Regions from separate parts of the Homo sapiens genome. Here regions 1 and 3 are each linked to region 2. Evidence: fine-mapped expression QTL. A gene starts in region 2. Each other region holds a variant in brackets. All regions are shown on one strand. Distances are from middle to middle.

What was found. PIP is the estimated chance that this variant, and not a neighbour inherited with it, causes the effect.
Region 1: its variant is the best candidate, but not a certain one, in a credible set for the expression of CENPF in T cells (TOPMed, PIP 0.85).
Region 3: its variant is the best candidate, but not a certain one, in a credible set for the expression of CENPF in lung (TOPMed, PIP 0.74).

The regions. Positions count from the first base shown.
Region 1 is chr1:214,628,711-214,631,474 of GRCh38, forward strand. It overlaps CENPF (centromere protein F), which reads left to right. Exons shown (of 20, transcript NM_016343.4): 8 at 336-461; 9 at 1,824-1,952. Among named protein-coding and RNA genes, the nearest start is that of CENPF, 27 kb to the left of the region's middle. The variant T/C (reference allele first, on the strand shown) is at 1,038.
Region 2 is chr1:214,601,929-214,604,692 of GRCh38, forward strand. It overlaps CENPF (centromere protein F), which reads left to right and starts at 1,267. Exons shown (of 20, transcript NM_016343.4): 1 at 1,267-1,393. RefSeq lists a silencer at 1,161-1,370.
Region 3 is chr1:214,639,141-214,641,904 of GRCh38, forward strand. CENPF (centromere protein F) reads left to right here. Exons shown (of 20, transcript NM_016343.4): 12 at 781-2,764. Among named protein-coding and RNA genes, the nearest start is that of CENPF, 37 kb to the left of the region's middle. The variant A/C (reference allele first, on the strand shown) is at 1,212.

The sequences.
Region 1 (2,764 bases), 27 kb after region 2:
CATTATGCTTGAAACAGACTATCATATGAGGGTAATGGGCACCCTCTGATGATTTTACAGCTTTTAAATTACATAGGCTAACACCATTGCATTTTAACCTCTCATTTCCATGCAACAAAATGTTAGATGAATCGTTAGACATGCCGATCTTTTTTTTCATGGCACAAATTAGGAAGTATTTATTTAAGTGGGCTAATGCTTTACATCCTTGCTAATAGTTCCTAAACATAAATTGTGTGCTAAAACAATTATAGCAGTTTTTCTAAAACACAAAATATTTGTTCATTTATGTGAGTAATATTTATTTTGTCTTGAACATTTTTATTCATTATTAGTATACTGCATTGGAACAAAAACTGAAAAAATTGACGGAAGATTTGAGTTGTCAGCGACAAAATGCAGAAAGTGCCAGATGTTCTCTGGAACAGAAAATTAAGGAAAAAGAAAAGGAGTTTCAAGAGGTAAGGTAAATGGATTCATGAGGTGTTTGTCTGAAAGGCTTTTTATGGGCTTTTCATAGTTTGATCACTTGGAAAGGGGAGTTGTTATCACAATTTGGGAAATTCTCTTAGAGGAGAAATGCTTTGTGAGCTAAAGGTCATCTTATTTTCTTTCACATCTTCACTTTTGCGCTTTTTTTAAATCTTTCAGTTTTTGATTAGAGAAGGGAATTAGTATTCAGAATTCATCCATGTTTTCTGATTTGTTTGAGATTTGATATTCAGTAGGAAAGGATCACTTTTCTTCTTTTGGACATTTTCTCTGCTGTGGAGGAAATTGTATTACATTTTCCAGTAGGCTTTTAAAATTTTTTTTTCTTTCACTCTATTTCCTTTATAACTCCAGTATTTTTTTTTTTGAGACAGAGTCTCGCAGTGTTACCCAGGCTGGAGTGCAATGGCACAATCTTGGCTCCCTGCAACCTCCACCTCCCAGGTTCCAGCAATTCTCCTGCCTCAGCCTCCCGAGGAGCTGGGATTACAGGCATGCACCACCACACCTGGCTAATTTTTGTATTTTTAGTAGAGATGGGGTTT[T/C]GCCATGTTGGCTAGGCTGGTCTCGAACTCCTGACCTCAGGTGATTCACCCACCTTGGCCTCCCAAAGTGCTGGGATTACAGGCATGAGCCACCATGCCTGGCCAACTCCAGTTGTTTTTAAACCTGTGGGTTGGTAAATAAATTAGGAGGGTAGTTGATGTGGTGGGGAAAGTGGTTGGCAGAAGAGTGAGGGTGGAAGGTGCCCTTCCATAAGTATCTGCCAATTTGGTTCTTTCAGGTGATTTAGCCTGAAAAAGTACCATACGGATTAAGAGTCTATAGATTTTAAATAAGAATGCCTGGAAATGTTAGCTGATATCTTTCTGTGGTTATTAAAGTTAATGGGTAGCATATATTTCCTGTCCTTCTACATTTAAGCCCATTTAAAGTGGTATACAGTTTTTTGTGTTTTAAACACCGTTTTTGAGTATGTTTGGTTTCTTAGTTGAGCTTTGACTGTTGTAGCTCAGTTCTTCTCTCTTGCCCCTGATCCTTCAAAGTAGAGGTAATTAATTTAAGACTGAAGATGAGGTGGAAACAGGCTACTTTCCATGTGGTCAACTGATAAGAGTCCTTCCCCTTTCCCTCAGAGACCTGGATTTGATGCCTGAGGGCAGCATGGAGCACCAAGGCTGACTATGTTCATCGTTAAGTGGACAGTTGGCTCAGCTCCCTGCTGTCTCCTGTGCTCTCTGTGCAGTCGCCTGTTAGGATGCTCATGCCTCACCCTGGAGTCTCCCTAGCGAACCATCATCAGGCTGATGCACCTGCCCTTTGTTTTTCAGGAGCTCTCCCGTCAACAGCGTTCTTTCCAAACACTGGACCAGGAGTGCATCCAGATGAAGGCCAGACTCACCCAGGAGTTACAGCAAGCCAAGAATATGCACAACGTCCTGCAGGCTGAACTGGATAAAGTAGGGGCCGTGTCTCTCTCTCTCTCCTTAATCATCCCCTCTTGTTCCTTGTACTTGTTACTTCTCTACCATAACTGACATATGATACTTTCAAAGAAAAAGCGCTCCACCTTCACTTTCCCTATCAAAGTGGAGAATGTACAGAACCATTCTGGCTCTAGGTTTCCTCATCTAGAGAAACAGTGGGGGTGAGTTAGGATTTCAGATCCGAAAGTCTGTGGAGCTCTCTCATAATCTGTTGGTTCTTGGTTCCATGACCAGGTGGGAGCTGTCCCAAGTAATTTATGCCCCCAAGTAGTTAAAGCACTGAAAATTATAATCACTTTACTTATTTAAGACTCACTCCCAAAGTGGTCTCATCCAGTTTTGTGGCTTTACATATCATCTATGTGATGATGACTCTACCCAGCCTGGATGTCTATTCTAGACTTCAGGTGTGTGGATGTGTGCTTGACAGTCCACTCACATGTCTAAAGGCACTTCATAGTAACATGCTAAGAATTGAACTCTAGGTATTTTTCTTTTTCAAAACTGTTCCTCCCTTAGTCTTCCTTACCCTGCTAACTTGCACTTCCATTCCCCGCATTGCTGGGACCAAAACCTCCATGTCACTTCTATTCTTCTTTTTCTCTTACACTTGAATCTGCTGCCTCTACTGATGGATACTTAGGTTATCAACATTTTCTTGTTCCCTGTGGCACTGTTTGTAATATCACGGGGCAGGTATCTTTGTGTATGTGTGCTGATGTTTCTATAGGTCAGATTTCTGCATGTGAAATTTATAGCCTAAAGAACATATGCATCCCAATATT
Region 2 (2,764 bases):
TTCAAATTCTAAAACTACCAGACACTAGACTGATCATGGCAATGTCTGACAAAAGTTTTCCTCCCCTACCTGCTCTCTCCCCTCCCTTTGGGGATTCGAAGGTAGAAGATAGTAAGAACAAGGCCTTTCCCCAAATAGCAGTTTTATCTCCCAAGATGATCTGGATTTTAAATTACTATGTGCAAAGTTACTAGGGATGCAAAAATGAATTAAAACAGATTTTACTGTAAAGGAATTTTTGAGTCTGATGGGGGAGTCAGACGTAGACATAAATACAAGACAAGACACGGCGAAAATCCTAAACATGAAGTTTGCAAGTTCCAGGAAAGGTCTAGGAAATAATTATCTCTAAGGAGTGGGTGGGATTAGGGAGGTTTTATAAAAAAAGTGACACTTGAATTGGGTACTGCAGGAACAGTCTAATGAAAGGTAAAGTCAGGGGGCTGGAAAGTTTGGTACCTATTGAGGCAGACAACAGCATTAGAGATCTATTACTTTAACAATTAATTGTTTTGCTTCTGCCTTTAGAAGCTTATTTATAGTTTAATAGGGAAATAAAACGAGTATATAACATACATAGAAAACTAGTGGGCTTCACGAAAAGCATTACACCCCGTTTTGAGGATTCTTCTGAATTTTAAATTCTGATGCAGTGTCCTCCCCCCACGCCTTAATCCCGGAAAATAAGTGTTCAGAATCACGTCTTAGAAATATGAACCATAAAGGACAGCATTTAAGAGCGACATCCTGCATTGCGTAGATTCAATTTCAAATTACTGTACTTAGCTTCTATGAGCCTGTTAACTTTTTAATAAAATGAGGATAATACTTTCCTCAAAGAATTGTTAAGAACGACACCGGATAAAGAATGCATGACAAACACAGCACCTAGTATCTATGTCCTAAATTTACGTTTAATTAAGTAGATTGGTACGTGCAGTTTAAAAGAGGTTTCACCAGGCAGCACAGTTCCCCTGGCTGTAGGCGATAGACCACGCCTTCCTAATCAGCGGGCGCATTCCCTGACTTTTGCGGAAATAGCGGTCCAAAACCGCGTCTAGCATTAGCAAAAGCACGTGGTCTCCGTCTCCCCGCAACAACAAAAAAGAACAGTAAACTCCGGCGCAGGCACCTCCAGTAGAGGGCTTGTTTTTAAAATCCATCCGAAAGGGCCAATCAGACGCGGCAGTCTGAGTGCGCAGGCGCGGATTGGTCCGCAGCTACTTAGAGTGACCAATAGGCGTGGAGGTAAGTTTGGTTGAGACCAGAAGCGGGCGAATTGGGCACCGGTGGCGGCTGCGGGCAGTTTGAATTAGACTCTGGGCTCCAGCCCGCCGAAGCCGCGCCAGAACTGTACTCTCCGAGAGGTCGTTTTCCCGTCCCCGAGAGCAAGGTGAGCGTCCTGACTGGGTCCGGATCCTGGCCCTGGCGGCGGGCGGTAGGCGGCGGGCGGCGTGGGGGTGCCGCTGGCTTTTTGCCGGCGGGTACTGGGCGGGGAGGCCTCTGGGATCACTCTCCCGGCCCTGTAGGTGCCGGGGACCGCCCCCTCCCACCCGACCGAACTGGAGAATCCGCCCCGGGATGTGGTTCGTAGGGGTGTCTGCGCCCTTCTGCTCGGGTTCAAACTGGTCTCGGATTAGTGTCCCAGACCCTACTCGGTCACGGACTCACACTTTAGGGGATCATTTTCTTCCTCCGTAAAAGAATTGGAGATGACTAGGTATTTCCAAGCCGCCTTCCCAGTCCCGTAACCAACCTTATTGAAATTCAGGCCCTGGTCCTTTGTTTTATTGAGTAGATGTAAGCTTGAGTTTTGATCTGGTTGGCGACGTGGGGTGCCTATGGTTAGTTACGCGAGCATTTCTCTTTCCCCTCTCTTCTTCCTCCCGTCCACATTTTTTTTTTTCTTTTTTTAAATAGAGATAGGCCTCCCTATATTGCCTAGGCTGGTCTGGAACCCCTGGGCTCAAGGGATCCTCCCGCCTTGGCCTCTGTAAGTGCCAGGATTACAAGCATGAGCCACTACGCCCGGTCCTCCCTTCCACATTTATTTGAACGCGCCTGTGTGCCCGGCTCGGCTGTGTAATGAGGACCCAGAAATAAAAGGCATGGGTCGTGTCCTTGAGCCTGACCTAGAGGAGAAGGCAGGGTTATCATTCTCAGACCCAGCCTTGGTACAGTGCACGGGGACTCTGGCTTTTTGGAGGAGGTGGGGAATTCTGACAACGGGAAAGCAGTGGTGGAGGTGGGGCAGGAGGAGGTCACACAAGAGCTTCCTTGGGGACTAAGGGACTGGGTAGTTCGGGCATGAAGAGTGCCCTCCACGTATTTAAGAGATAAAGATACAGCATTTTCTGGAAAGGACAATAGTCCTGCAAGTCCTCCATGCAGGAACCTTCATCCAGGGCTTTTCTTCACTCCCCACCTCGATTCCCTGTTCCTCAAAAGTAAACTTCTGGGTTTATTTTTTTGTTCTTTTGCCCCAATGGCCCAATACAGGTGGCTGATAGCTGATCCCTTAATGGGCCAAAATCTGCTCTAATCACAGTTAGCTTGGTCTACATCTATATTGTTCTCTATCTTAGACTTTGGAATGGAAAAGCATTCAGCTTGCCAGTCTTCTTTATGTTTATTCCCCTCATTTTCTAATCATCTTTCTAAATTGCTCCTTTTTATATTCTGTTGGCTATAGCATCTTGATGTAATGATTTCAGTTGCTGGCTGAATTGTTTAGGGCAATTACAGTTGTGTGTCTCTGGGTACA
Region 3 (2,764 bases), 37 kb after region 2:
TCAATCTCCCCCAACATACTTGAGCAACATGAAGCCTTCTTATCACTGTTTAATGAAAACATCGTGGTTATTCCCAACCAGGAGGGGCCAGTATGTATAGATGAGTCATTAGGCAGAAGACAGGGGGTAACGGAGTTTGAAGAAGCTTCCAAATGACTGTGACATTCATAGACACTGCCACCCTTACTATGAGGGGCTGGGATGGGGGTGATAATGTTCCTCAGGAATATTCACATATAGGCCTTGAGAATTACTGATATATGGCATCATTTACTCTTTTCTACTTAAGTCTAATCCTGTGGATGTTTTAGCTAAAATGGTGGAGTACTTATTTACTTTTCTGAGACATCAGAATTACTCTACAATAAAGTGGGATGTTCCCATTTCAGTGCTGTTCTTGTCCCAGTTTTCTCTCTTGGAATAAATATTTGAAAAGATGGTAAAAATATACACATATGTAAACACATACAAAGAAAAGAAACAGTGCTTAGGAAAATCATCCCTTGGTATTTTATTCAATAACATGTTCTTAAGCTGCTAGAAAGAAGATGAACAAATGTGTTACTCTCCTTAAGATAACCATTTTTCTCATTTTTATATAAGATAATTACCAAGTGATCCACTTTCTAGGAGGTACCCAGGCAATAATGCCAGTTTTTCCAGGGCTTGAGTAGTTGTTAGTTTGTTTGGATTTTGCCAGGGGGCGGGGGGAGGGGTTAGCGTTTCTGTAGAATAAACATTTATTACAAACATTGACGACTTTTATTTATTTTTAAATAGCGAAGAATACCTCTCAGGAAACCATGTTAAGAGATCTTCAAGAAAAAATAAATCAGCAAGAAAACTCCTTGACTTTAGAAAAACTGAAGCTTGCTGTGGCTGATCTGGAAAAGCAGCGAGATTGTTCTCAAGACCTTTTGAAGAAAAGAGAACATCACATTGAACAACTTAATGATAAGTTAAGCAAGACAGAGAAAGAGTCCAAAGCCTTGCTGAGTGCTTTAGAGTTAAAAAAGAAAGAATATGAAGAATTGAAAGAAGAGAAAACTCTGTTTTCTTGTTGGAAAAGTGAAAACGAAAAACTTTTAACTCAGATGGAATCAGAAAAGGAAAACTTGCAGAGTAAAATTAATCACTTGGAAACTTGTCTGAAGACACAGCAAATAAAAAGTCATGAATACAACGAGAGAGTAAGAACGCTGGAGATGGAC[A/C]GAGAAAACCTAAGTGTCGAGATCAGAAACCTTCACAACGTGTTAGACAGTAAGTCAGTGGAGGTAGAGACCCAGAAACTAGCTTATATGGAGCTACAGCAGAAAGCTGAGTTCTCAGATCAGAAACATCAGAAGGAAATAGAAAATATGTGTTTGAAGACTTCTCAGCTTACTGGGCAAGTTGAAGATCTAGAACACAAGCTTCAGTTACTGTCAAATGAAATAATGGACAAAGACCGGTGTTACCAAGACTTGCATGCCGAATATGAGAGCCTCAGGGATCTGCTAAAATCCAAAGATGCTTCTCTGGTGACAAATGAAGATCATCAGAGAAGTCTTTTGGCTTTTGATCAGCAGCCTGCCATGCATCATTCCTTTGCAAATATAATTGGAGAACAAGGAAGCATGCCTTCAGAGAGGAGTGAATGTCGTTTAGAAGCAGACCAAAGTCCGAAAAATTCTGCCATCCTACAAAATAGAGTTGATTCACTTGAATTTTCATTAGAGTCTCAAAAACAGATGAACTCAGACCTGCAAAAGCAGTGTGAAGAGTTGGTGCAAATCAAAGGAGAAATAGAAGAAAATCTCATGAAAGCAGAACAGATGCATCAAAGTTTTGTGGCTGAAACAAGTCAGCGCATTAGTAAGTTACAGGAAGACACTTCTGCTCACCAGAATGTTGTTGCTGAAACCTTAAGTGCCCTTGAGAACAAGGAAAAAGAGCTGCAACTTTTAAATGATAAGGTAGAAACTGAGCAGGCAGAGATTCAAGAATTAAAAAAGAGCAACCATCTACTTGAAGACTCTCTAAAGGAGCTACAACTTTTATCCGAAACCCTAAGCTTGGAGAAGAAAGAAATGAGTTCCATCATTTCTCTAAATAAAAGGGAAATTGAAGAGCTGACCCAAGAGAATGGGACTCTTAAGGAAATTAATGCATCCTTAAATCAAGAGAAGATGAACTTAATCCAGAAAAGTGAGAGTTTTGCAAACTATATAGATGAAAGGGAGAAAAGCATTTCAGAGTTATCTGATCAGTACAAGCAAGAAAAACTTATTTTACTACAAAGATGTGAAGAAACCGGAAATGCATATGAGGATCTTAGTCAAAAATACAAAGCAGCACAGGAAAAGAATTCTAAATTAGAATGCTTGCTAAATGAATGCACTAGTCTTTGTGAAAATAGGAAAAATGAGTTGGAACAGCTAAAGGAAGCATTTGCAAAGGAACACCAAGAATTCTTAACAAAATTAGCATTTGCTGAAGAAAGAAATCAGAATCTGATGCTAGAGTTGGAGACAGTGCAGCAAGCTCTGAGATCTGAGATGACAGATAACCAAAACAATTCTAAGAGCGAGGCTGGTGGTTTAAAGCAAGAAATCATGACTTTAAAGGAAGAACAAAACAAAATGCAAAAGGAAGTTAATGACTTATTACAAGAGAATGAACAGCTGATGAAGGTAATGAAGACTAAACATGAATGTCAAAATCTAGAATCAGAACCAATTAGGAACTCTGTGAAAGAAAGAGAGAGTGAGAGAAATCAATGTAA